7 linked regions of the Homo sapiens genome follow. The protein of the gene in region 6 purifies or fractionates together with the protein of the main gene of each other region. This does not show direct contact. Each region holds a gene or a part of one and is shown on either strand. Other genes may lie near its edges. The genes, in order: IVNS1ABP, PAWR, KCTD5, MYO5C, ZNF234, PAN2 and MPRIP.

Region 1 (2,178 bases), on a different chromosome or scaffold from region 6:
CATTCATTTGACTCAAGGTTATAGACTTCCACCGTATTCAGAAATTCATTGCCATCGAATCCTCCCACTGCATAAATGGTGTTCCCTACAGTTGCAATCCCAGCATTGCTCCTTGGTGAAGTCATATTTCCCATCATCTTCCATTCATTTCTAGTTGGATCATACATTTCCACACAACTGATGGCATGAGAACCATCAAAGCCACCACATACAAACAGTTTTCCTAAAAGAGAAATGAGATGGGGTAAATCCAGAGATTAAAGTGTAATAAGGTAAAACTCCCCTAAATCTGTCTTTTGCTTAAAAATCAGTGGTTTTAAAAATAGAAATGCCTGTTCATTTTGTCAAAAAGAATTTATTAAATGCCTAATATGACAAATACTCTCTAAGAGCTGGGAATCAAATCAATAAAAAAACCATTCCCACGTGGAACTTAGGCAACTTAAAAGGGGGAGGGAGAGGAAGCAGTAGCAGCATCTAAATAAGTACAATTTTCACCAACTCTGTGGTAGTTACTATTATTATTTCAGAGAAGAAGAAAAGCAGGAAGAAGCTGGACAATTATCCTACAGATGCAGCTACTAAGTAGCAAACCAGAATAGTTCTGTGCACTGGACTTTATATCAGCCCAATGTACAGAATTAAGACTCAGAAGAGATTATAGGAAAGCAGAAAAATATCTTAGGGCTTTCCAACTGTATAAAATGATTTTGGGGCCAGATGCGGTGGCTCATGCCTATAATCCCAATACTATGGGAGCCTGAGGTGGGAGGACTGCATGAGCCCAGGGGTTCGAGACCAGCCTGGGCAACACAGTGAGACCATGTCTCAATTAAAAAAATAAAATGATTGTGGTACAGAAATTTCTTCTGGAAACAGAGTTATGATTATTTTCAAATAGATAAAATGTTAGCAATAAATACTCCGTAGCTTAGAAAAAATTTTATTACTGATTCTCAAATTCATTATTTTTTCATTTGACCATCACTTAACCAGCTTGCATTCTATGTATCTGTAAAGCACGCTGACAATGCTCTAGGCCAACAGGCTGTGTCTACACTTAAGCCTTCACCAGTTGAGCCATAAGCCTGCTAAGGTTCAGCCTGGTACCAAAAACAATGCTAACTTTTAAATTATGATTATATAATTAGACATTAAAAGTCAATAAAATGGAGGTGGAAAGAAAGCTATGTCTACATTTAAAAAGTTTAATACTTTGGAAACTTGTTAAAATAGTCTAAAGGTTGTATTTCCAATTAGGTATGGAGTAGACAGTTGGAAAAGACTAGGGATTTGCCTTTGTTTTGCAGATCAGATTCTTTAAATTCTGGCTGTAAAGAAGGGGAAACTCAAAATTCAAGATGATGCATTAAGGATATGTTTTATAGAAGAAAATGACTTGGAAATTCACTCAGTGCACCCATCAAAAGACTGGTGAATTAAGTTATATATCAAGTATTATAAGTCTTTGATTAGAAAATATATTTCTAAAGGACAAATCACCCTAATCTCCATTGCATCAAAAGAGATGACTGCTTCTGAATTCTTAACTGTACAACTATAGTCATTGGCCTTTTCTCTCAGAGTTTTAGAACAAAGTCTTGCCACTATCTACTCTTCACCTCTCCAAATCCCAACACTCACCATTAAGAACAGCCACTCCAGCTCCTCGCCTAGCCACATTCATGGGTGCAATTAAAGTCCAGGTATTATTTTCAGGATTGTATCGTTCTACTGTGTTCAGACAATTCCAAGATTCTGCACCTCCGATTATGTACAAATAACCACCAAGCTCACAGACTGCAGACTGGTGTCTCCCTACAAGAAAAGTCAAGTCAAGATTATTGCTACATCTCCCAGACTCTAAGTGTATACTACACATACTGTTGATTTGAAGGTCTTTAAAAAAAAAAAGGAAAAAAAATCAACTTACGAATGTTAAGAGGGGCACAGCTTGTCCACAACTTTGTTACAGGATCAAATACATCACAATTTTTCAGTCCTTTTTGACCATATGGATCAGAGCCACCAACGATGTATAACTTTCCATTCAGAGCACACACTCCTATGTAAGTATAAAATAAAGTTACATATTGATAATTTAATTATCATATTTAAATACTGGATATCTCAGGAGAAAACTATTATTACCTGCATTACAACGGTTAGTTCTCAATT
Region 2 (3,500 bases), about 23 Mb from region 6:
AAATTTTCAGGTGAAACTGTAGCAGATCCTACTTTATTTTTCAATGGTTAGTGTAAAATTCTGTATGTAAAATAAGTACATATTTTGAGATGGAAGAAGGACTGCATGTGAAATGCTTTGCCTAAGTTGTAAGGCTCCTGTCTTTACGCTATCATTAAAGGCCAAAAAAATCACTGCTAGAAATGTTCCCCAAAAAATTCTTAAACAGCTCAGTCTTTAAAAGTATTAATAATTTTTTTTTTTTTTTTTTTGGAGACAGAGTTTCGCTCTTCTTGCCCAGGCTGGAGTACAATGGCGCAATCTCAGCTCACCGCAACCTCTGTCTCCTGGGTTTTCAAGCGATTCTCCTGCCTCAGCCTCCTGAGTAGCCAGGATTACAGGCATGCGCCACCACACCTGGCTAATTTTGTATTTTTAGTAGAGACGGGGTTTCTCCATGTTGGTCAAGCTGGTCTCAAACTCCCGAACTCTGGTAATCCACCCGCCTTGGCCTCCCAAAGTGCTGGGATTACAGGCATGAGCCACTGCACCCAGCCTAATAACTGATATAATTTTTTTAAGTGAAATGAAATGTTCCTTTATTTACATATGAATTAAATAGAAAATTCAAAGTAATTCTTTTAATAAAAACCCATATACTAATATATTTTAAGGTTGGATACTAACAGCATTTTCACAAGATCCAAAGTGTGGATGACGAACTAGGCAATAAGGACATGTGTGCCACATAACTAAGGGTAACTAAAGGAAGATGAGTACCTCACAACCAAAAGCAGTTAACTATGCCTGGCATACCACCCTGTCATGTGGGCAGATCACTGTTCCCATGCTGGGTAAGAGTCTCCAAGAAGGGAAGCCCTTATGCAGTAATTCTGTAACTATATTAAATTTGGTAATCTAACATTAAACTTTTTCGTGAGCAGTGAATATACACATGGTCATATGAAAACTGCCCTGGAGACCGGGTTAATTATTAAATAAACTAAAAGGGGAGAAATGCTGATAGATAAAATTATGTCAATTCCAGGGTGTTCAATGGAATAAAGAAACAGCAGCAGCTGCTTCAAAAGTAGACTATGATCAGAAACCTCAGATGGTAACCTTTAAAAATTGTGGAATCCAGAGTCTCAACCTAAACCTACATAGGAGCTACAGCCAGGGAGTTCTTTCTAAGTTCCTCAAGTGATTCTGATGATTGGCCAAGCTGGAAACTTCTGAACTGGGGGAGAAAGCCAACCTAGGTAAATGTAGAGACTTTTAGAATTCAACATTTGATTATCATTTACTCCACATTTTCCCCCAGCTGTCTCACCTTCTCTATTTTTCTAACAGTGAACAATAAAAGGGCTTGGCAAGTGAAGGAAAAAGTCAGTAGAGTACCTAAAATGGATTTGACTATATTCAAGCCACTTTCATATATTAACTAGATAAAAGGATACCATACTGCTATTTGAAATTCAATCACAAAGCAAAAATGTCATAATTTTAATGTATTTTAAGGGAAGACGGGGTTCTTAACATGAATATGTAATACAAAAACAATTCTAAATAATAATATTTAATAGAAGAAAAAATCTGTATAATTATTTAGAAGTAACTCTGTTTTTAAAATTTCAATGTTAGGAAGAAAATCCCTTAAATTTGAAATAGCGGAATATTCTCTCATATGAAAAAACTGTGTCCCAGTGTTATTCTTCAACTTAGAAATTAGGCAAAGTATTTTAGTACTATTTCTGCTTACATATTGTTTTGTATGAATGTTTTAAGTATGAATAATATTTTGGTTTTTAGTGTGCATGCTAATATAAAAATATGGATTTTTTTCTCCTACACTGACTTTGTACACTTTCCAGGCCCGAAGAATAAAAAACTTTTAAAATATCCTGTGTTCACTAGCAAACCTTGGAACGATAAAAAAAGGTAGTACCTACATAAGAAATTTTACATTGAAATTACAATTGTATGTTTTTCAGGAGTTAAAGTGATTCAATTTTTCAATATTCAAACACAAAATAGTAAATTTTTATTTACTATAGCACAATTCAAGTATTCTCTTAAATTTATATTTAGTCAACTAAAACATGACAGTGACTTTATAAGAGCTTTCCTTTTAAAAGGTTGCTGTTATAAAAAAGTATGACTCTATTACTCTAAATGCTTAGAATAAGTGGAAAGAACAAATGACAGTAGACAAAAACCTTTATGAGTGAGTCATCAACACATAAAAGGTTGCACACATCAGTAATAGGACATGTGAAGGTAACATCCCAAAAGTATTTGAACTCATGTAAACAAAGACTATGTATATTCCTAAGGGAGAAAATGTACTACCAAGATAAAATATATTCAAACGGCTGTGACTTTAAACCATGTATTAGTTGAATACCACACAAAACCAAAAAGGCATTATCTATCATTTAATAACTGAAAGATATTACTTATTTGTGAGATAAAAGGATAATGCTTTTTTAAAACCAATAATGAAAAAGAAGTATTTTGAAAACAAACATCTGTTTGCTAGAAATAAATATACTTGCTTAGTTATTTTAATGTATTGCAGCATAGGAATATTGTGCTAGCATTGACCATTAACATTCAATCAGTAGTTTAAAATATTTTTTCCACATTGAGTCTTGAATCCTCTACCTGGTCAGCTGACCCACAACTTTCAAAAGAGTTTTATTTTCCTGCTTTAGCTGTTCATTTTCATCTTCTATGTCATCTAGGTCCTTAAGAAAAAAAAAAGACACTTTAAAAATACTTAAAAATATTTGAGGAGAGATGAAAACACTTAATACACATTAAAAATAATTCATACAACCAATTAATTTTGAAATGAGGGCAAGCTCTGAAAACAACTTTAGATGTAATATGCCCCACCAAAAAAGAGCATCCATTACTTGACTCTTCGTTCTTACAACAAGTGTATAGGCCAACTCTTACAGATCTTTCAGTTTTTCAAAGGAAGCCGAAAGTCAGAATTTTAAAATTGTGAATCTTCCAATTTTCAATCATCATAAATAAGTTAGTTTTTTAGCTAAACAAACTCCACTTCCCCTCCCTAAAACTGAGGCAAAAAAAAAAACTACCCATGCAAGCCATATATGGTATTGAGCCCTAGGTTGCAACCTTGTGTCAAATTAGTCATCAAAAGGTGCAGGTACAAGTTCTAGATGCACTCCTACCACTGTCTGATCTTTAAAGGTGTACAATGGGGATAACACTCTGGAGAGGTGACAAAACTGAGGCCTACGGAAAAGGGGATCTGGAGTATCTTGATCTGGATCAATTTTGTTTTCAGCTCCAGATCAATTTGTATGTTGGACTTTTCTACGACATTTTGAAGGAAAGGTTTTAGAGCTAAAATTAATTCAAAGCCACTAAATTAAGTATTCGCTCTCCAGCTTTAAAAGCATATGATCCAGCTCTTTTTTCCCTGTATTAATCCTTGTCCCAAACACACAACCATCTGGTTAAAACAAATTCACCATAAGTTTTAG
Region 3 (3,500 bases), on a different chromosome or scaffold from region 6:
ACAATTGGCAAGTGGAAGACCAGCTGCAGAGGGAAGCTACCCTCTCTGCTGAGAGCTGGGAAGTCAATGGAGAGGAGCCAGCCAGTCCGGGGCCGCTTCTCTGCTGAGAGCTGCCAACTGAATGAGCCGACCTGCCTACAGAGAGGAGCTGCCCCCACAGTCTCCTCTGCACTGTCCCAACACTTGGTAAAGCTTCTCTTCGTCATGCTCACCCTCCACTTGTCTGCTACCTCATTCTTCCTGGACGCAGAACAGGAACTTGGACAAAGGTGCTGCCGGCCAGAGACGTTTCTGGCCAGAAAAGCGACACCCTAAAGACACCGTATCAGCAGGGCTGGGCACATCCAGACACAGGGACGTGGAGCTTTGCAAGGCCAAGTTTACCAGCCGGAGCCATGGCACCTTTCCAGGGTGCCTGAAGAGAGATCCTGCTGGCAGTGAGAGCTCTGGCCACAGTGGCTAGGCTCTGCCCAGCTCGTCTCAGTCCCTGGAGCTCAGGCTCCTGACAGAGGGACCAGGAAGCCCCCGGACGCACCTGTGTGGGAACCGCACGCCCCAGGAACCTTCCTGATGCGCTTTCCCTGCAGCCTGTGGCTCCAGCCCATCCCTGTGCTCAGGGGCCAGCAGCCTGGGTGCAAAATACCCAGCCATCAAAGGCAGGGGAGGCTGAGGCACCGCGGGGGACCCCACGTGCATCCAGTTAGGAAGAGACTTGAAAGGAGCAGCCTCTGGAAGACTTCCAGGAGTCCAGATGCTTGTTGCCAACCTCGCTGGGAGCCAAGGCTGCAGGGCAGAGGAGCAGAGAACCCCAGCTGCGTCTACCAAGAACCTGCCAGCCGCTCCACACCCCCGCCGCCCCAGTGCCTCCAGGACAGTGGGCTTCCTATGGGGCCCCCGCCACAGTACACTCCTCCCACGTGGTTCAATTCTCTGAGCCCCACGACCTCTGGGCCCATGCAGGACCTACCCAGGCTGCGTGGACTCGGCGCGCCGGGCCTGCAGCTGCCCCCACAGCCCTCTCCCGGAGTGACACTGCAGAGCCCTGCGTGGCCCTAGAACCCAGCTGAGCCGCCGGGCACCAGAGGCTGAAGGGCGAGCAGTAGGCTGAACCCTTGGTGGGAAATTCCAAAACTGGCTCTTCTGTGGCTGGCCTCACAGCTCTCCGGCCGTTTCTTCCCATGGGTTCCTTCTAACTGGTGGGTTTCCTCGAGAAACAGGCCCTGTCTGGGCAGAGCGGAAGGTCAGGGACATCCGCACCAGGGCGGGGAGGCAGTGGCGTGTGGAGGTGCTGCTCTCACCACTGCTCTCTTTGAAGCTTTCAATGAGAGATTTCCACATCCATAGGAAGTGCCAGGGTCTTAAACCAGGACCCCCAAATCCCACCAGGGTTCGGGTCTCGCTGTGGCCTGACTCGCTTCCAAGCATGTAGGCAGGGTCTTGGTGCTCCCAGCTCGGGTGAGCCCACATGTTCCAGATCGGCCTAATGTGTGCGGGGGCTACTCGTGGTGCCAGCCCAGGCCCAGACAGTGCCCAGCCCAGGCGCGAGGGCCTCGGCAGCTCACTGCTGGTGTTGGGGATGTGGATCAGCCTCCACCCTGATGCAGAAACAACAAAAAAATATGGAACATGGGAAAATGGGAAACACAAAATCATACAAAATTCAGGATATACTCCGAGGCTCATGGAGACAAAGGCAGCAAGGTCACCTCGGGGAGGTTTAGAACAGCGTCTGGGCCAACCTAGGCAGGGCCCCTGTGCTGCCCGTAAGGCCATCAGCGGCGCCTGCCCAAGCCCCCATGACACGAGGAAGGAAAGATGCCCCGGCCCGCTCACGCCTCTACGACTGGGATGAGGAGAGGCGGCCAGGAAGCCAGTGAGATGCTGCGGGCTGGGCGTGGGGGTGCTCTTCTTCCTGGCTTTCTCATACGTTCCACGGCTTACACAACCAGCACAGGCTGCGCTTGATCTCAGGAAGGTTCGTGGTGGTTTTTTTCTAAAACAGCCATAATTAAGACTGTTTTATTGACAAGTCATTTCCCTCATCTTCCCCGCGTCTCACTGAATTGGCATCTGACCTACTTGTGGCCGGGCCCAAGCTGGCATTGAGTGGGCCCAGCAGGCTGGGCTGAGCCACCCATCTCCAGAGGTCCCAGGCTTCAGCCGGAGCCACAGGACGTAGGCCGGGCAGGACAGTTGCCAAACCACAGAGGAGAGGGCGACCCTGGCCACGGGAGCACATGGCAGACAGCGCCGAGCCAGGGCACACACAGCCCTGGCAGACGGAGGAAGACTCCGCAGACAGAGCTGACTGCTCGCCCACTCCCCAGGTCCACAGGGCAGCCGCAGATGGACGTCTGGTCAGGAGAGCAACACTCAGAGAAGTGTGGTAACAAGACTGGCCGCTCTGCTCATCTCACCAGACTCCGGCTGCAGCTCTCCGCCATCCATGCTGTCACCCAGCAAAGCACCGGGGGCAACGTGGGGGTTCCCCAGCCTCTCAGGGACAGGTCCCTAATGCAACCAGCAGCCTTGAAAATGGCAGTGAAGGGCTGGGCACAGTGGCTTACGCCTGTGATCCCAGCACTTTGGGAGGCCAAGGCAGGCGGATTACCTGAGGTGAGGAGTTCAACACCAGCCTGACCAACATGGTGAAACCCTGTCTCTACTAAAAATACACAAATTAGCCAGGCATGGTGGAGGGTGCCTCTAATCCCAGCTACTAGGGAGGCTGAGGCAGGACAATCACTTGAACCTGACAGCCCCGTTGCAGTGAGCCAAAATTGTGCATTACACTCCAGCCTGGGCGATCCAGTGAGCCTCTGTCTCAAAAAAAAAAAAAGAAAAGAAAACGGCAGTGAGGAATGAGGGTGGAGACTGCCAGGCTCTCACGCCAGATTCTGAACCCAACATAACCCTGCTGCTGCCCAACCCTCCCGCAGCTCCCAGAGCTCTGCAAAGAGGGTCGGCCCTGCGGCTCTCAGTCATTCCCGGTGCTCGGAGACACGTGCCACCAGAGGGGAACGAAATCAAGAGGGTGCAGTGCCCTGAGCCAATCCAGGAGATAAACTCTGTCAAATTGCCCCACAGAAATCTAGACGCGAAGGCATAGAATTTCCTGTGCACCAACATCTGCAATCAACCTAATTAGAAATACTTAGTTTTTACTCTGAAATTATCCATTTCAAGTGACTCTGTTTCAATTTCGCACACAAAACCTTCACCTCTACTCTCTCTTCTGTTTTGTTTTATGCAGCTGTGGCATATCTTTGGCCCACAAGAGGACTTTGATGTCACCAATTACTAATGGGGAAACTGAGGCCAGAGACCAAGGAGGCTTGTCCAAGGCAGCCAGATTCGGAGAGCAGGGTGGGGCCCCTGTGCCCTGGTCGCCAGGCCTGCTGCCTCCCCACCACCCTTCCCTTCCATTGCTTCTCGGCCTCACCCAGCATAGAAACTGGAATTTGGGAGGTCCCTGCCCCACACATGACTCAAAGCTTAGT
Region 4 (3,500 bases), on a different chromosome or scaffold from region 6:
TCGTCATACTTCCACCTCCAAGGCAGCACGCACTGGAGCAAACCACGCTCTTGCACAATAACATGGTTTATTCAGTTCTCTGCTGTCTGGGAGTATTAGTGTTCTGTCCACAACAGTAGGACATGCTGATAAACCACAGTCACGGACTGAAACCTTTCATAATAGGTGTTTATGCATGAGGTTAACTTTTCTTCCTATTGAGTAACTTAACAAGGTTGGGCTGCTTTTTACCGTGATGTAAGCAGTAAATTATTTCAGAGCCATGTTTGATCTCTAGCTTTGTTTCCTAGTTCCGCAGCTCTCTGTACTTGCTCATGGAGACCCTCAATGCGACGACGCCCCACTACGTTCGATGCATCAAGCCAAATGATGAGAAGTTACCCTTTGAGTAAGTGTTCTTATGCAACACACAGCGAAGACGTGGGAAGGCAGTTTCTGCCATAAAGTTGGAGAATTTGCTTCCAATTGTCTTGAGATTACCCTGTTTCTGGGTTTTTTTTTAATGATTCAGAACAATGCTGCCCTTTACATAAAATGTTAGCTCAGCCCCTCTGGTTAAACCCCCTCATCTCCAGGGCTAAGCAAAAGGGCTAGATTTGAAAGAATCTTCTACAACTAAAGTTTTTGCAACTTGAACCTTTTACTTGATTAAAAGAAGAATGAGTATGTGTGTTTGTAGAAGGTCATAGAAGGTCAGAACATTTGTCCTCAGACATGATGGCATGAGGCATTATTCTTGTTCTCTGGGACCCATGGAGGAGACCCAAAGCTTGTGAATATAAGGTGTAACAAGTCCCTTGTAGCTTGCTAGAGCTGAAAGAGGTGCCTAAAGGGGGATGAGCTGTCTATGGAGGTGGTGAGTGTGTGTATGGGTCACCAGATGGGTGAGACCTAAGCTGCAGAGCTACCTGTTGGGTGTTCTGTAGAGGAAATTCAAGCATCAGTGGGTGCTTGGGCCAGGCGAGCTAGCATATTTCTTTCCACCTGGTTGTCGTTTGAAGCTCACCTCAAAGGCCAGTTCCCCCATGGCCTTCTCAATGCCACCTCCATCAGAGTCAGCTGCTCCTTTCTCTATATCCCACTGCATCTTTATGGACTGTTTTGCAGAGGTGCTATTTTTCTTGGTCATGCAATAGAAACTTATTAAGTATCTGCTGGGTACCTGGCATAGGGTCACAGTCTAGCCAGGTCTGCTGTGCCTGTTTATGGGCATGTTGAGCAATTACGATGCCTCAACACATAATATCATTGTCTTTTTAAAGATTTGACTCCAAAAGAATTGTTCAGCAGCTGCGAGCCTGCGGCGTTTTAGAAACGATTCGCATTAGTGCACAGAGCTACCCTTCCAGGTATGTTGTCCGTCCTTGTCTTGGAGGGAAAAGTACCTGACATCAGAGCTATGCTGAGAACCAAGGACATGGCTGCCATGATTTTTGTCACATACTTTTGGCTTCTGTAAAGTGCCCCCAAGATTTTCCCACTGCCCTGTGGAAGTCCAGAAGAGGTTGAGAAATAGGCTTTGTAGGGGTCGGAGGTCAACACCACCTTCTCACCCCATCACTGCATCTCGGCTGCTGGTGGTGGCCCCACCGCCTCCCCCGTGTACTAGGGAAGACGCTGAGTGGGAGAAAGAGCACAATTGCTGGGGCAGACAGGAGTGCTCAGGGTGGTCTTGGTAGTGTCCCAGGCAGGCAGGGTATCAAAGATCAGTGCCTTTATCCTCAGGACAGATTGCACCACCCCCGCCCTATGACAACAGTGGCAGGTAAGGCAGCGGAGTCCCCAGACACAATGTGCTTCCTCTGACACTCCTGGCTTTGATCCCCTTTGATTTTCCAGGTGGACATACATCGAGTTCTACAGTCGCTACGGCATTCTCATGACCAAGCAAGAGCTTTCCTTCAGCGATAAAAAGGAGGTGTGCAAGGTGGTTTTACACAGACTCATCCAGGTCAGTTTCCCCACCTCCTGGGATCATGGTCTCCTTCCTGGAAGCACATCTCCCAAACATGCTGTTTCATCTTTGTCTTGAATGCTCAGGACTGTAATCATGAACACCTGAAAGGAAAGAAAATGTGCCCTGAGCATTTGTCTGCTGAAGAGACCATAGCAGAGTGCTCAGTGGGCCATGAGTCCCCGTTAGGGACCCACATCCGAACTCCGGCCTCCCCAGTGTCCTCGTATCCTGTTTAGCTCTCCCACGATCTAACCCAGTCCTCTGTGGACCAGGCTTATAGGATATGGTCAACTGGGGTTGTCACCAAGCCACATGGGCTCCAGGCATGGTGCCTTGTGTGGATTGACATCATTGCTGCAGCGATGAGTTGTGATGGGAAAGAGATGGGGAGTTATAAGGTCCAGCAAAGGGGATGGTGAAGAGAACCCAAAATGGAGACAGAAAACCAAACTTCCCCAGTTTCTTCTACTCCAATGTGGAGACCACGAGAGAGTGGCTGAAGTTCTCTGGCAGCCCAACTGAGAATCGCCGCAAATGACACTCACTCCCCTTCTCACCCACAAATGGATTCCTCAGCCTAAGTCCCATTTCTTCCTCCAGGGTAATTTTAAACAAACAACTCAAAGTATACATTTCTAGATCATGATGTGAGTTTTCTGCCTTAAATGTCAAAATCACAATATTTCTGGCACCTTTGAATCCCTAAAGCTCTTTTCCAAATACTGTATTATAGAAAATCTGACAGATTTTAATTCTAACTATATCATTTTTCTCTTCCAGGATTCTAATCAGTACCAGTTTGGTAAAACCAAAATTTTCTTCAGAGCAGGACAAGTGGCTTATTTAGAGAAACTTCGATTGGATAAACTGAGGCAGAGTTGTGTTATGGTACAAAAGCACATGCGTGGCTGGCTCCAGAGGAAAAAATTCCTCCGAGAGAGACGAGCCGCCCTGATAATCCAGCAGTACTTCCGGGGTCAGCAAACTGTGAGGTATGTTGGAATCAAGGAACACATGTGGAACTGTGGGGCTTTCTGTGCTGATCATCTCCGGCGGGGAGGACTCATCAAGGACAAGGGACCTTTCTCCTGTGACCCAGGGTGCAGACGTGCATGGGTCCCCTTTGTGGTCGTGAGCATTAGGGCAAGAAAGGTCCGTCTCTCAGGGGCAGGTAGTGCTGGCTCTGCCTGGTGTCTGTGTGGTGAGCCGACACCCAGGGCCCTGCAGGGAGGAAGCGCTGGTGAGAGTGTTACTAAGGAGAGTCAGGGTTCCGGAAGCTCAGGGAGAGGCCCGGGGCCCCTTTCCTATGGGAACTGAAAATGCATAAGATCAGCAAGGCCCTAGTGAAGATCCAAAGGACAGATGTCAAGAATAGCCAGCGACCAGCCTGCCAGCAACAGGTGGGGTGCACCATGGCAGAGGGGGTCCCTGCAAGGCCTGGCAGCAAACCAATCACAGAACCCCTAAGCAGGAAGACCACAGCAGCCCCAGCCAAGCCAAGGGCTGAGGGGAGGGTGGTCCACCAGCTGCGCTGATCCTACCT
Region 5 (3,500 bases), on a different chromosome or scaffold from region 6:
TTAATCCACTCAGTTTGGGGTAATATGTTACAGCAGCAGTAAGAAATGCAGTGTCCAGGTCGGGCACAGTGGCTCATGCCTGTAATCCCAGCACTTTGGGAGGCTGAGGCAGGCGGGTCACTTGAGGTCAGGAGACCAGCCTGGCCAACATGGTGAAACCCTGTCTCTATAAAAAATACAAAAATCCGCCGGACGTGGTTACAGGCACCTGTAATCCCAGCTACTTGGGAGGCTGAGGCAGAAGAATCGCTTGAACCTGGGAGGCGGAGGTGGCAGTGAGCTGAGATTGCACCACTATACTCCAGCCTGGGCGACAGAGCGAGCAATGTCCTTACCAGGTCTGGGAAATAGCAGGGAGGATGATGTGGCTGGAAAAGATGGAGCAAGAGGTAGAATACAGGAGATGTAGTCAGAGACGCAGAGGAGGATGAACAGCAGACCACGCAGGACTCTATAAGCTCCTTTAAGAGACTTCAACTTTAAGAAAAATAAGAAGCCATTCAGAGTATTTTTTTTTTTTTTAAGATGGAGTGTCGCTCTGTTGCCCAGGCTGGAGTGTAGCGGTGCGATCTTGGCTCACTGCAACCTGCCTCTTGGGTTCAAGCGATTCTCCTGTCTAAGCTTCCTGAGTAGCTGGGACTACAGGCGCTGGCCACCACGCCTGGCTAATTTTTGTATTTTTAGTAGAGACGAGGTTTTGCCATGTTAGCCAGGCTGGTCTCAAACTCCTGATCCTCCTGCTTTGGCCCCCAAAGTGCTGGATTACAGGCATGAGCCACTGTGCCCAGCCCTGTACAAGGTCTTAAGTAGAGGAATGGCAATCTGACTTACATTTCCAAAGGATCACTTTAGCTATGATATGGAGAACGCCTGTAGGAGAACATACTTTATACTATTGAGGGTGGATGCAGTGCGCCCAGTACGAAGGCTGTTGCAATCATCCAGGACAGAGGTTTGGCAATTTGGACCCGATGGCAGCAAGAGCAGGGGAGAGAAGTACAACAGATGGACAATCACGTACAAGGACTCTTAGCTGCTTGGTTCTTACCTGATTTCCCTTTTCTTTGAGTTGCTGTCTTCATTATATCAAGCTTTTTTTCCTTTTCTAAAAGGAATACATCATGTTTGAAGGGGTGATGCCCTAGAACACGCAAAGTCACATATTTAAAACAAACACACTAAAGGTACAACTGAACTTACTGGCAATTTGAATTACTACTGTATACTGATCAATCAATCAAAAGTAGTGTTTTCAAACACTTTTAGAAGAACCTAATGAAGAAATATCAGTATTTCAAGATCCAGACACATAGACATAAATATGTGCTATAAAAACCTATTTCTGAAAGGAGTTAGTTCGCTTGCCTTAGGTAGACAGCAAGGGAAGGGTCTTTGGAGAGCCCCTGACCCATGGGTTAGTGTCTTATTTTTATATAACATAAAAAGCAGCCTGGAAAAAAAATTTAAGCTGCAGGCACCAATAAGGGAACTACCACAGGGTGTTGTGCCTGGAGACATGCCCACGGCTGCACAGATAGAAAAACCTCCAGCCCATTTGGATAAAAGCTTGTACATACCTCCAGCTCGCTCAGATAAAGGAGCAAGGCCTGGCATAAGAATGCCTTTGTCCTCTGTATAGTCAGCGGGCTCCCAGGAAAAGGTTTCTTCTCCTTTTGTGGGCATAGGTACAGTGGGCTCCAGTGGGTTCCAGTGGGCACTCTACTTTCTTTTTTTCAAACTGTAAGTCCGGTCTCTATATATCTTTACTTCAACCTGATTGGTCCTGGGCCAAGGTTCCGGGCCAAGCTAAGTCACACTTTCTCCAAAATAGCCCACAAACTAAGCACATTCCTTCCCCTTCCCAGTCCATAAAAACCCCAAACCCCTGCCTCATAGGGGGAATTCCATTTGGGTCCCCCTCTCTGCTGGCAAAAAGCTTTCTTCTTTTGCTTATTAAACCTTCACTCTAACCTCACATTTCTGTCTGCACTCATTAATCTTCTTAAAAATAAAACAAAAAACTCCAGGTGTTATCTCAAACAACAGAAAAACTGTTACATCTTGGTGCATTACTAAAATTACATTTCTAACCAATGTCTTTTTTTTTTGAGACAGTCTCACTCTGTCACCCAGGCTGGAGTGCAGTGGCGTGATCTAGGCTCACTACAACCTCTGCCTCCTGGATTCAAGCGATTCTCATGCCTCAGCCTCCCAAGTAGGTGGGATAAGAGGCATGCACCACCACACCTGGTTAATTTTTGTATTTTTTATTTTTTGGTAGAGATAGAGTTTCATCATGTTGGCCAGGCTGGTCTCGAACTCCCGACCTCAGGTGATCCACCTGCCTCAGCCTCCCAAGGTGCTGGGATTGCAGGCGTGAGCCACTGTGCCTGGCCCCCGTTTATTTTCATTAAATCTCCTCCCACAAGTTCTCACACCACTCATGCAATTTACCAGTTTTATTTGCTATGTATTCCATTAATTTTAGTGAACTCTGATATTTCTATCTCATTTTATTTCACTAAAAACTACTGATAGGAAAGTCAGGTCTACAAATGTAGGCGACTAATTCAAGACCTCCAAAGTGTTGAACCCCTGAAGACACAAAATCACTCCAAGAGACTGACATTGAGTGTTAGAAAGCTCATGTCCTCACCCACTGACAGCAGGTTCCTGAAGTTCTCCAGCATCACATCTTGGTACAGATTCCTCTGGACAGGGTCCAGCAGCCCCAGCTCCTCCTCAGTGAAGACCACAGCCACATCCTTGAAGGTCAGTCCCTCCTATAACATCAAACACACCTTACTTCAGCCTTTTTAACAAACTCTTGAAAAGAAACAGCACTGAGAAAGTGGAGAGTATGTAGGGGGAGCTGGTCCAGATTTTCAGAGACTTAATGTGTAGATTTCTCAGCCCTTCTCCTTCCATCTTACCAATGCCACACTTTGATTTTCCTTAGTGTCAGTAAAAGTACATCAGTAACAATAGCCTTCAATTCCTTTGTGGCTTCACTGAGTCTATTTGTAAGTAACCATCTAGAACTCTAAATGACGCATCCTGAGCCACACGGGTTTCACCTTTCGGTAAATATTACCAATTGCCCCAGAAACATTTAGCAAGTCAGAACCAACATACATGATAACACCCACCTTCCTCCTCTCTCACATAGGAACGCTGGATGCTATCCCTTTTCATTAAAGTCTGCCAAACTAACAAGCTTTTGGTAACATATCTAAAACTGCTATGTAGTTTTCCTTCTGTACACCCAGGGCACACAGCACCAGCATTACCTGCAGCATTTAGTGTCATGATCTGGAGCCATCATGCCTCAGTGCACACAAGGGTACCCTTCAAAGTTGTGTGATCTTGGATAAGTTCACCTAGTTTCATCTTGGTATGATAGTTCTTACATGACAGAGTTCTTTCAAACGTTGAAAAAGAAACTACATATAGCATTTGGAATAGTGTATGGCGCAGACTAAGTACCTAAGAAACATTAG
Region 6 (3,500 bases):
AGGCCAGTGAGGCGGCTGGAGAAGCCACAGGCAGCTAGCAGGTTGCCATGCACATCAAAGTCTGACAGACTTCCTGAGAAGGCATCAAACTCATGTTCCACCTTAAAAGTACGGAGGTCTCTCAGGGAAACCTAGAAAAAAAAAATTCAGTTATCTGCAAATTCTGTTATCAGGAAAAATACCTGCCACCTACCTAACCCAGTGGGGTCCCTACCAAAGGAACTAGGGCTTTAGGACAGGGAAAGTTAAAGCACAGAAAAGGCAAACAGAGAAGCCCAGAGCCAGAAGGGGCTTCAGGGAGACTTCATTATCATAGAAAACATCAAGCTGCAAAATAATCTCATAGTAGAACATCACTGAGTAGGAAGTGAATTCACTCCACTCATCCCTCACCTCCAATCCAACTACACCCCAGAGTTAAGGGAAAGCAGATCGCAATCAGGTATCTAGTGAAACAGGGCCCTGCAGTGGGAGGAGAAATGGAACTTGGCCACCTTGCCAGACGTGTGGCCGCAGAAGAAGAAGCGATTTGTCTGTCTCATGATGGTGACTCCAGGCGTCTCTACTGCATACTGGAGAGGGAAGCAGGAAAAACCAGTGAGAAGAATGATTTTTCCCACAGACCAAGGGAACAGAAAGGTCACACCCACATCTCAGGCACATTACCAGCCCAAGCATACCCTGCCCCCGCAACAACCTCAGACCCCACATAGGTCTTTCTTGCCCCAAGCTTGTACCTTCTGAGTCTCCTGGACAGTGTTAAGATCAATCTCTATTATGTGATTCTGCAGCCCACCAACGAGTAGAGTGCTGCTGTCAGTCAGTAGGAGACTGTGCATATCCTCATTCTCATCCAGCCTGGTGGGGAGAGGAAAGGCTAAGGGGCCCAGGCCTTACAAGCTGCCAATCCCTTAGCCTTCCCACCCTATGAGGCATCCTCGTTCCTAGTCCAGAGCTGAGAAGCCACTTACAGGTAATCAAATATAATGAGGCCCCCACGGGCCATATACTTGAGGTTGTTCTTGGTGAGAAAAAGGATACCATTCTCCAGGCTCTGGATCTGCCGAATATCATCACTGCCATTGACTTGAAAGGATGAGTAGCGCTCCAAGGCTGGGCCAAAAAATGAAGTGGCATGGCCCTATAGAGGACAAAGACAACAGAGACACTTAGAGTGGAGGGGCAAGGGCCACCCTACGGCCAGGTCAGGGACTGAACATGGCTCAGCTTGGATCCTTTCTTGCTTGGCCTTTGTGACTAGGAGCAACTGGGGCAAAAGGCTAGGAACCAGTCAATCTTAGTGATAAAGACACTGATAATACTGTCTTATGTTTGTTTAATGTGTTACACAGCATTTTGGTAAACTCTACCTCATTTTGTCCTCACAATGACCCTGCTGAATAGGTAATGGCTCACTTGGTTAGAACAGTATATAGAAGGTCAGGGACATGGTCCAATTCTCTACTGGCCAGCTGGCTTTCTTATGTTTCACATCTGGGAGGATGTGCATAAGGTTATATGCAAATACTATATCATTTTCTATAACGGATTTAGGCATCCTTGAATTTTGGTATCTGGTATCTTTAGATCTTGGAACCAATCCCACATGGATACCAAGAAGATGATGGTAACTACTAAACCTCCTTAAACATCCCATCATAACCTCAAACTCATGACATCCTAAATTAAATTCACCATTTTTATTTCTATTTTTCTTACTGTATTCTCTATGGTACCAAGATCTACCTAGTTGACCAAGCCATATATCTGACAGTCAAGTCCTATGTATTTTTTTCCTAACCACTAGATAACCAAGGATTTTTTAAAATTTTTATTTATGTATTTATTTTTTGAGATGGAGTTTCACTCTTGTTGCCCAGGCTGGAGTGCAATGGCACGATCTCAGCTCACTGCAACCTCTGCCTCCCAGGTTCAAGCAATTCTCCTGCCTCCCAAGTAGCCAGGATTACAGGCATGCACCACCACACCTAGCTAATTTTTTGTATTTTTAGTAGAAAGGGGGTTTCACCATGTTGGCCAGGCTGGTTTCGAACTCCTGACCTCAGGTGATCCACCTGCCTCGGCCTCCCAAAATTCTAGGATTACAGGCATCAGTCACCGCACCTGGCCTATTTTGCTTCCTAAATATTTCCCAAATCTGAGGCTGGGTGCTGTGGCTCACACTGTAATCCCAGCACTTTGGGAGGCCAAGGCAGGTGGATCACTTGAGGCCAGGAGTTTGACACCAGCCTGGCCAACATGGTGAAACGTCATCTCTACTAAAAATACAAAAATTAGCTGAGCATGGTGGCACACACCTGTAGTCCCAGCTACTCAGGAGGCTGAGGCAGGAGGATTACTTTAACCTGGGAGGCAGAGGTTGCAGTGAGCTGAGATGGCACCACTTCACTCCAACCTGGGCAACAGAGTGAGATTCCACCTAAAAAAAAAAAAAAAAAAAAGCCCTTCAGTGGCCTGAAGGTTCAAGTCCAAGGTCCAAGCTCTTTTAACACAGCATATGAAGTTCTCTAGAATGTTCCTTCCCCAGATATCTACATGGCTCCTTCCCTCCCTTCTAGAGGGCCTAGAATAGTAAAGGAGAGGCACAAGGATAAGTTAGAGGCATGGAGCTCTGCCTCTTTGTTCCCCTTTTTGGTGCTGCATCCAAGTCTCTATTCAAATGTTACTTTATCAGAGAGAACTCCTGACCAACTATTTAAAGTAGCAACATTGTTTCTAAAAGAGCCATTAGGAAAAAAGATTAAAATTAAAACAAAACACTACAAAACCAAACAAAATAGCAACATTTCCCACCCTTCATTACCTCAACCCCCTTACTCAACTGTATTTTTCTTTTTTTTTTTTTTTTTTTTTTTTGAGACGGAGTCTCGCTCTGTCGCCCAGGCTGGAGTGCAGTGGCGGGATCTCGGCTCACTGCAAGCTCCGCCTCCCGGGTTCACGCCATTCTCCTGCCTCAGCCTCCCAAGTAGCTGGGACTACAGGCGCCCGCCACTACGCCCGGCTAATTTTTTGTATTTTTAGTAGAGACGGGGTTTCACCGTTTTAGCCGGGATGGTCTCGATCTCCTGACCTCGTGATCCGCCCGCCTCGGCCTCCCAAAGTGCTGGGATTACAGGCGTGAGCCACCGCGCCCGGCCTGTATTTTTCTTTTAATAGAGATGGGGTCTTGCTATGTTGCCCAGACTGGTATTGAACTCTTAGGCTCAAGCAACCCTCCCACCTTGGCTTATCAAAGTGCCGGGATTACAGGTGCCACTGTGCCTGGCCTCATTGTATTTTTCTTTTTCTTTTTTTTGAGACGGAGTCTTGCCCTGTCACCCAGGCAGGAGTGCAGTGGTGTGATCTCAGCTCACTGCAACCTCTGCCTCCCAGGTTCAAGCAATTCTCCTGCTTCAGCCTCCCAAGTAGCTGGGATTATAGGAACCTGCCACCACACCCAGCTAATTTTTATATTTTCAGTAGAGACGGGGGTTTCACCA
Region 7 (3,500 bases), on a different chromosome or scaffold from region 6:
TAGAACCACACCCCTGAGAGTCGTGGCAAACCTTTCACAACCTGGAAAATGTTGAAAGCAACCATTCCTATTTTTGTTTGTTTTTTATTAAATCTTGCACAAAATCCCCGGCCCCTCTCCTTCCTTCCTTCCTTCCTTCCTCCGCTCGTTCCTTTCTTGGTCTCCAGTAACCCTGGTCTTTTCATAACTGCTCGAGATTGTTGACCTGCAGCCCAGGTTTCAGACTCTGATTGCAAAAAACAAATGAATTCCCCCCAGGAATCATTCAAAATGGGGGAAGGTTTGGGGGTTTGGGTTTTTTTTTTACCTTTTGGAAAAGAAACCGTCACATTGCTTTGGAAAAGGTTGAGAGGAGACCCCTGTTAAGTCAAGAAGAAAGTACAGAGGATGTCAGAATCTGATGAGAACAGCACATTAGTGTTTATTGAGACTCCGATCTTAACTCTCATTTAATTAATCTGAGCTCTGAAAACCTATCTTGCAGCATTTATCTTTAAAAGAGCCTGGTTAAAGTAAACCTATACTAACAATTTTGCTTTTTCTAACAGTTTGAGGAAGACCTTTTTAACCACCACAAAACATTCTATGGCAATTCTTGAAAATCTCTTAAATTGGAGTCTATTATGGCCCCATGAAAACCATTAATCCCATTAAGATAGGGAGTATAAACCCCTGGCTGGTGGAACAGGTTCTGCTACTTTAGGAGCAAGGTGGGGTGTGAGTAGATGGTTTTCATGCCAAGAACATGCTTTCACTTTGTATTCATGCTTGTGTTGGTGTGATGGTCTCTGTGGGTGGGTGGATGCTTTGGGCGTTGAAATCTAGAAATCCTGTTGCTCAGTTTCTAGATGAAGTCATGAGCAAGGCCATCAGTGGAGCTCTGGCCCCGCCCCCAATGTGCAGAAGGGCCGGGAGCAAGGCCTGGAGTTTTCATGTGTTTTCAGACCCAGGTTTAGGTGCTCTCTTCTCACTGAAATAACTAAGTGCTCTCCACTGGCATCGAGCCCTTTCCACAAGTTTTTAAGGCTCTTAACCCACACTTTCACTCCTCTGCTACTAGTCTTCAGTGTTGTTAACAGCAAGAGAAAATTGGGTTTGTTTAAAAATCTACTTCTCTGAGGTGGCACAGTTGCGTAGCTGTAGTCCCAGCTACTCAGGAGGCTGAGGTAGTAGGATTGCTTGAGCCCGGGAGGTCGAGGCTGCAATCAGTCATGATCGTGTCACTGCACTCCAGCCTGGGTGACAAAGCAAGGCCCCATATCAGATATAGATATACTTATCAGACCCCCCCTGACCATTTAGATTGGCAGTGCTTTGAGAAATGCACTATGACCTTTCTGTGTCAATGGGAATATACAGAAGGAACATTCGGGACCCCGCTGTCCCCCACAGCCTCATTGTTGTCTCCAGGACACTGCTGGGTCACACGAATGCTCCAGGACAGACAGGGACCTGGAGTGCATCAGGATCTGACCAGATAGGAGTTTTTGCCTCGTGTCTGGGTGCTACGATTTTGTGCCGTTCTCTGAGGTCCACCACCTGCCCTTCCTGGCATGGTTTCCTTCGTGACCATCCCTGCTGCCCCTGGGGGTGGACCCCACTGGCCCTTCTGCAGACAGCTCCCTGCCTTCTGCCCTCCAGGGGGTTCTGGCCAGAGTCCATGCTTGGAGACAGGATCATCTGCCTTCAGCCCTCACAGTGCTTTAAATTAAAGCAAGTTTGCCCATAGGACAAAAGAGCATTTGATTCCCTTTTTTCTGTCACATATCCCTTGAGGCTGGACTTCAGGAATCCTGGAAAATTAATATGAGTGCAGCATGTGAGGGGTCAGAGACAGGCCAGCAGGGCGTCTGCATTCCTCCCTGCCACAGGTCTCTCCCCAGAGGCTGGTTTAGTGTAGGGTATTGCCAGGAAACGGACTGAGGCTGCTTTGCTAAGAGCTCCTGAAAATGCCCTGGGCCTGTCCTGGCGTTTCTGAAGAGCCCTCATACAGGGACAGCCACCATCTGGGTCAAGGAAGTCTGGGTTCCCTGCTGGTGGGCTCCATCCTGCGATGGAGTGAACCAGGCGAGAAAGGATGACGATGTTCTTCATGTTGCACCTGGACATGCCCCAGGAACAGAGACTTGCCCAGGTGGCAACACTGGCACAGATGTTGACGGCTGCCCAACTGGTGCCACACTGAGCAGGGAGCCTTGTGCTGCACAGGGCTGGGCCCTCTCTCCAGTTTCCTTCCTGCAGGCATCCAAATACCCTGGAAGGGATTTAACCCCTGAATTCCAGAGGGAAGAAAGAAGAACAGTGAAGAAGTAGAACTGGTTTCTGTATGGGGAGAGGAAAGTCTTAGGGACAGCTGCAGGCGGGGTCTCAGGCTGCTCCTTGGCACCAGCTACACAGTAGTGAGCTTTCCCAGCTTTACCGATGAGGAAGAAGTTCAAATAGATAGACTTCAGCATTTTAATTATTTTCCTATAAATGTATTTATGTGTAGTATGCTAGCACCAGCCAGTAAGCTGTGCCACACATATGAATGGGAAAGCGAGGCAGTTGTGCTCGTGTGAGTTTCTGCAGGCTTGTGGGTAATTACCTTGTGTGCACGCCTGCACGTGCAGAATAGTCACTTTCTGCTGGTCAGTTTCTTTATCCACCCATGGTGCCCCAGCCCCAGGCAGGTGTGGAGACCAGCATTTCAGAGGACGCGCTGTCCACAGCCTCCCGGGTCTGAGTGGATCATTGGGCAGGGGTGGAGACAGTGCGCTGCCCTCTGAGCTGGAAGCCTGTGCTTCAGGGAGTCATAATGGGCCTGTGCTAAGTGGGTGATGCAGTGGACATCCCAGGGCGACTAGAGGTGGCAGTATCGCGAATTTGCAGGTTTATTGAACAAGAGGTAACATCGGAGAGGATCTTGCCTTCGGATTCAGCAAGTATGAAGGCAGAAGAGCATGGAGAGCAAGGCCCCACAGCCTGCTTAGTGAGTTGGAAGGCCCAGCAAGAACCTGTTTCTGCAGCAGCCACCAGCTCCCATCACCCCTTGACCCTCCAGCTCATGCTGGAGAAGAGGGAATTTTGGCTGTTTAAAGAACACAGTTGTGAATCTCAGAATGTGCCTGAAAGGAATACTGACAGATAAGGCCGGAAACAAAACTGATGGCTTGAAAAACATTTTTATGGAATGTATTTACTATCATTTTGTTTTACTATAGAGGTAGATGGGACTCTTAACTTTTGGGTACATGGAAACATGCTGAAAACTGAACACAATCCTGATCATCACTCCTGCCTGGCTGTCTCCTGGGAGGCTGCCGGGTGCCACGGAGCTGGGACACAGCAGAGCCCGCTAGGTGTTGCAGGGCCCTGGAGGCCAAGGCCACCCTGTGTGGGGTCCCTGTTGGCAGCCAGGTCCCTACACAAACAAGTAATCCTGTTTGGCCTCCTAGGTTTTGCATATGACCTGCAGCCTAATTTGGGGTGTAGGGGAAGCTCTGCTGGCCCCTGCTCCT

The links.
Region 1: the proteins of PAN2 (region 6) and IVNS1ABP purify together in Homo sapiens (affinity purification with mass spectrometry, with the first as the bait; one large-scale study listed by BioGRID). This does not show direct contact.
Region 2: the proteins of PAN2 (region 6) and PAWR purify together in Homo sapiens (affinity purification with mass spectrometry, with the first as the bait; one large-scale study listed by BioGRID). This does not show direct contact.
Region 3: the proteins of PAN2 (region 6) and KCTD5 purify together in Homo sapiens (affinity purification with mass spectrometry, with the first as the bait; one large-scale study listed by BioGRID). This does not show direct contact.
Region 4: the proteins of PAN2 (region 6) and MYO5C purify together in Homo sapiens (affinity purification with mass spectrometry, with the first as the bait; one large-scale study listed by BioGRID). This does not show direct contact.
Region 5: the proteins of PAN2 (region 6) and ZNF234 purify together in Homo sapiens (affinity purification with mass spectrometry, with the first as the bait; one large-scale study listed by BioGRID). This does not show direct contact.
Region 7: the proteins of PAN2 (region 6) and MPRIP purify together in Homo sapiens (affinity purification with mass spectrometry, with the first as the bait; one large-scale study listed by BioGRID). This does not show direct contact.

Annotation. Positions count from the first base shown.
Region 1 is NC_000001.11:185,298,066-185,300,243, forward strand, and holds part of IVNS1ABP (influenza virus NS1A-binding protein), read right to left. Parts: coding exon 2,152-2,178; intron 2,066-2,151; coding exon 1,934-2,065; intron 1,819-1,933; coding exon 1,645-1,818; intron 224-1,644; coding exon 1-223. UniProt on the Homo sapiens protein: Involved in many cell functions, including pre-mRNA splicing, the aryl hydrocarbon receptor (AHR) pathway, F-actin organization and protein ubiquitination.
Region 2 is NC_000012.12:79,589,965-79,593,464, forward strand, and holds part of PAWR (PRKC apoptosis WT1 regulator protein), read right to left. Parts: intron 2,730-3,500; coding exon 2,643-2,729; 3' UTR 1-2,642. UniProt on the Homo sapiens protein: Pro-apoptotic protein capable of selectively inducing apoptosis in cancer cells, sensitizing the cells to diverse apoptotic stimuli and causing regression of tumors in animal models.
Region 3 is NC_000016.10:2,689,023-2,692,522, reverse strand, and holds part of KCTD5 (BTB/POZ domain-containing protein KCTD5), read right to left. Parts: intron 1-3,500. UniProt on the Homo sapiens protein: Its interaction with CUL3 suggests that it may act as a substrate adapter in some E3 ligase complex. Does not affect the function of Kv channel Kv2.1/KCNB1, Kv1.2/KCNA2, Kv4.2/KCND2 and Kv3.4/KCNC4.
Region 4 is NC_000015.10:52,243,805-52,247,304, reverse strand, and holds part of MYO5C (unconventional myosin-Vc), read left to right. Parts: intron 1-290; coding exon 291-388; intron 389-1,262; coding exon 1,263-1,349; intron 1,350-1,839; coding exon 1,840-1,951; intron 1,952-2,737; coding exon 2,738-2,949; intron 2,950-3,500. UniProt on the Homo sapiens protein: May be involved in transferrin trafficking. Likely to power actin-based membrane trafficking in many physiologically crucial tissues.
Region 5 is NC_000019.10:44,148,054-44,151,553, reverse strand, and holds part of ZNF234 (zinc finger protein 234), read right to left. Parts: intron 2,784-3,500; coding exon 2,657-2,783; intron 1,142-2,656; coding exon 1,049-1,141; intron 1-1,048.
Region 6 is NC_000012.12:56,327,501-56,331,000, forward strand, and holds part of PAN2 (PAN2-PAN3 deadenylation complex catalytic subunit PAN2), read right to left. Parts: intron 1,142-3,500; coding exon 972-1,141; intron 859-971; coding exon 738-858; intron 573-737; coding exon 495-572; intron 132-494; coding exon 1-131. UniProt on the Homo sapiens protein: Catalytic subunit of the poly(A)-nuclease (PAN) deadenylation complex, one of two cytoplasmic mRNA deadenylases involved in general and miRNA-mediated mRNA turnover.
Region 7 is NC_000017.11:17,185,457-17,188,956, forward strand, and holds part of MPRIP (myosin phosphatase Rho-interacting protein), read left to right. Parts: 3' UTR 1-3,500. UniProt on the Homo sapiens protein: Targets myosin phosphatase to the actin cytoskeleton. Required for the regulation of the actin cytoskeleton by RhoA and ROCK1.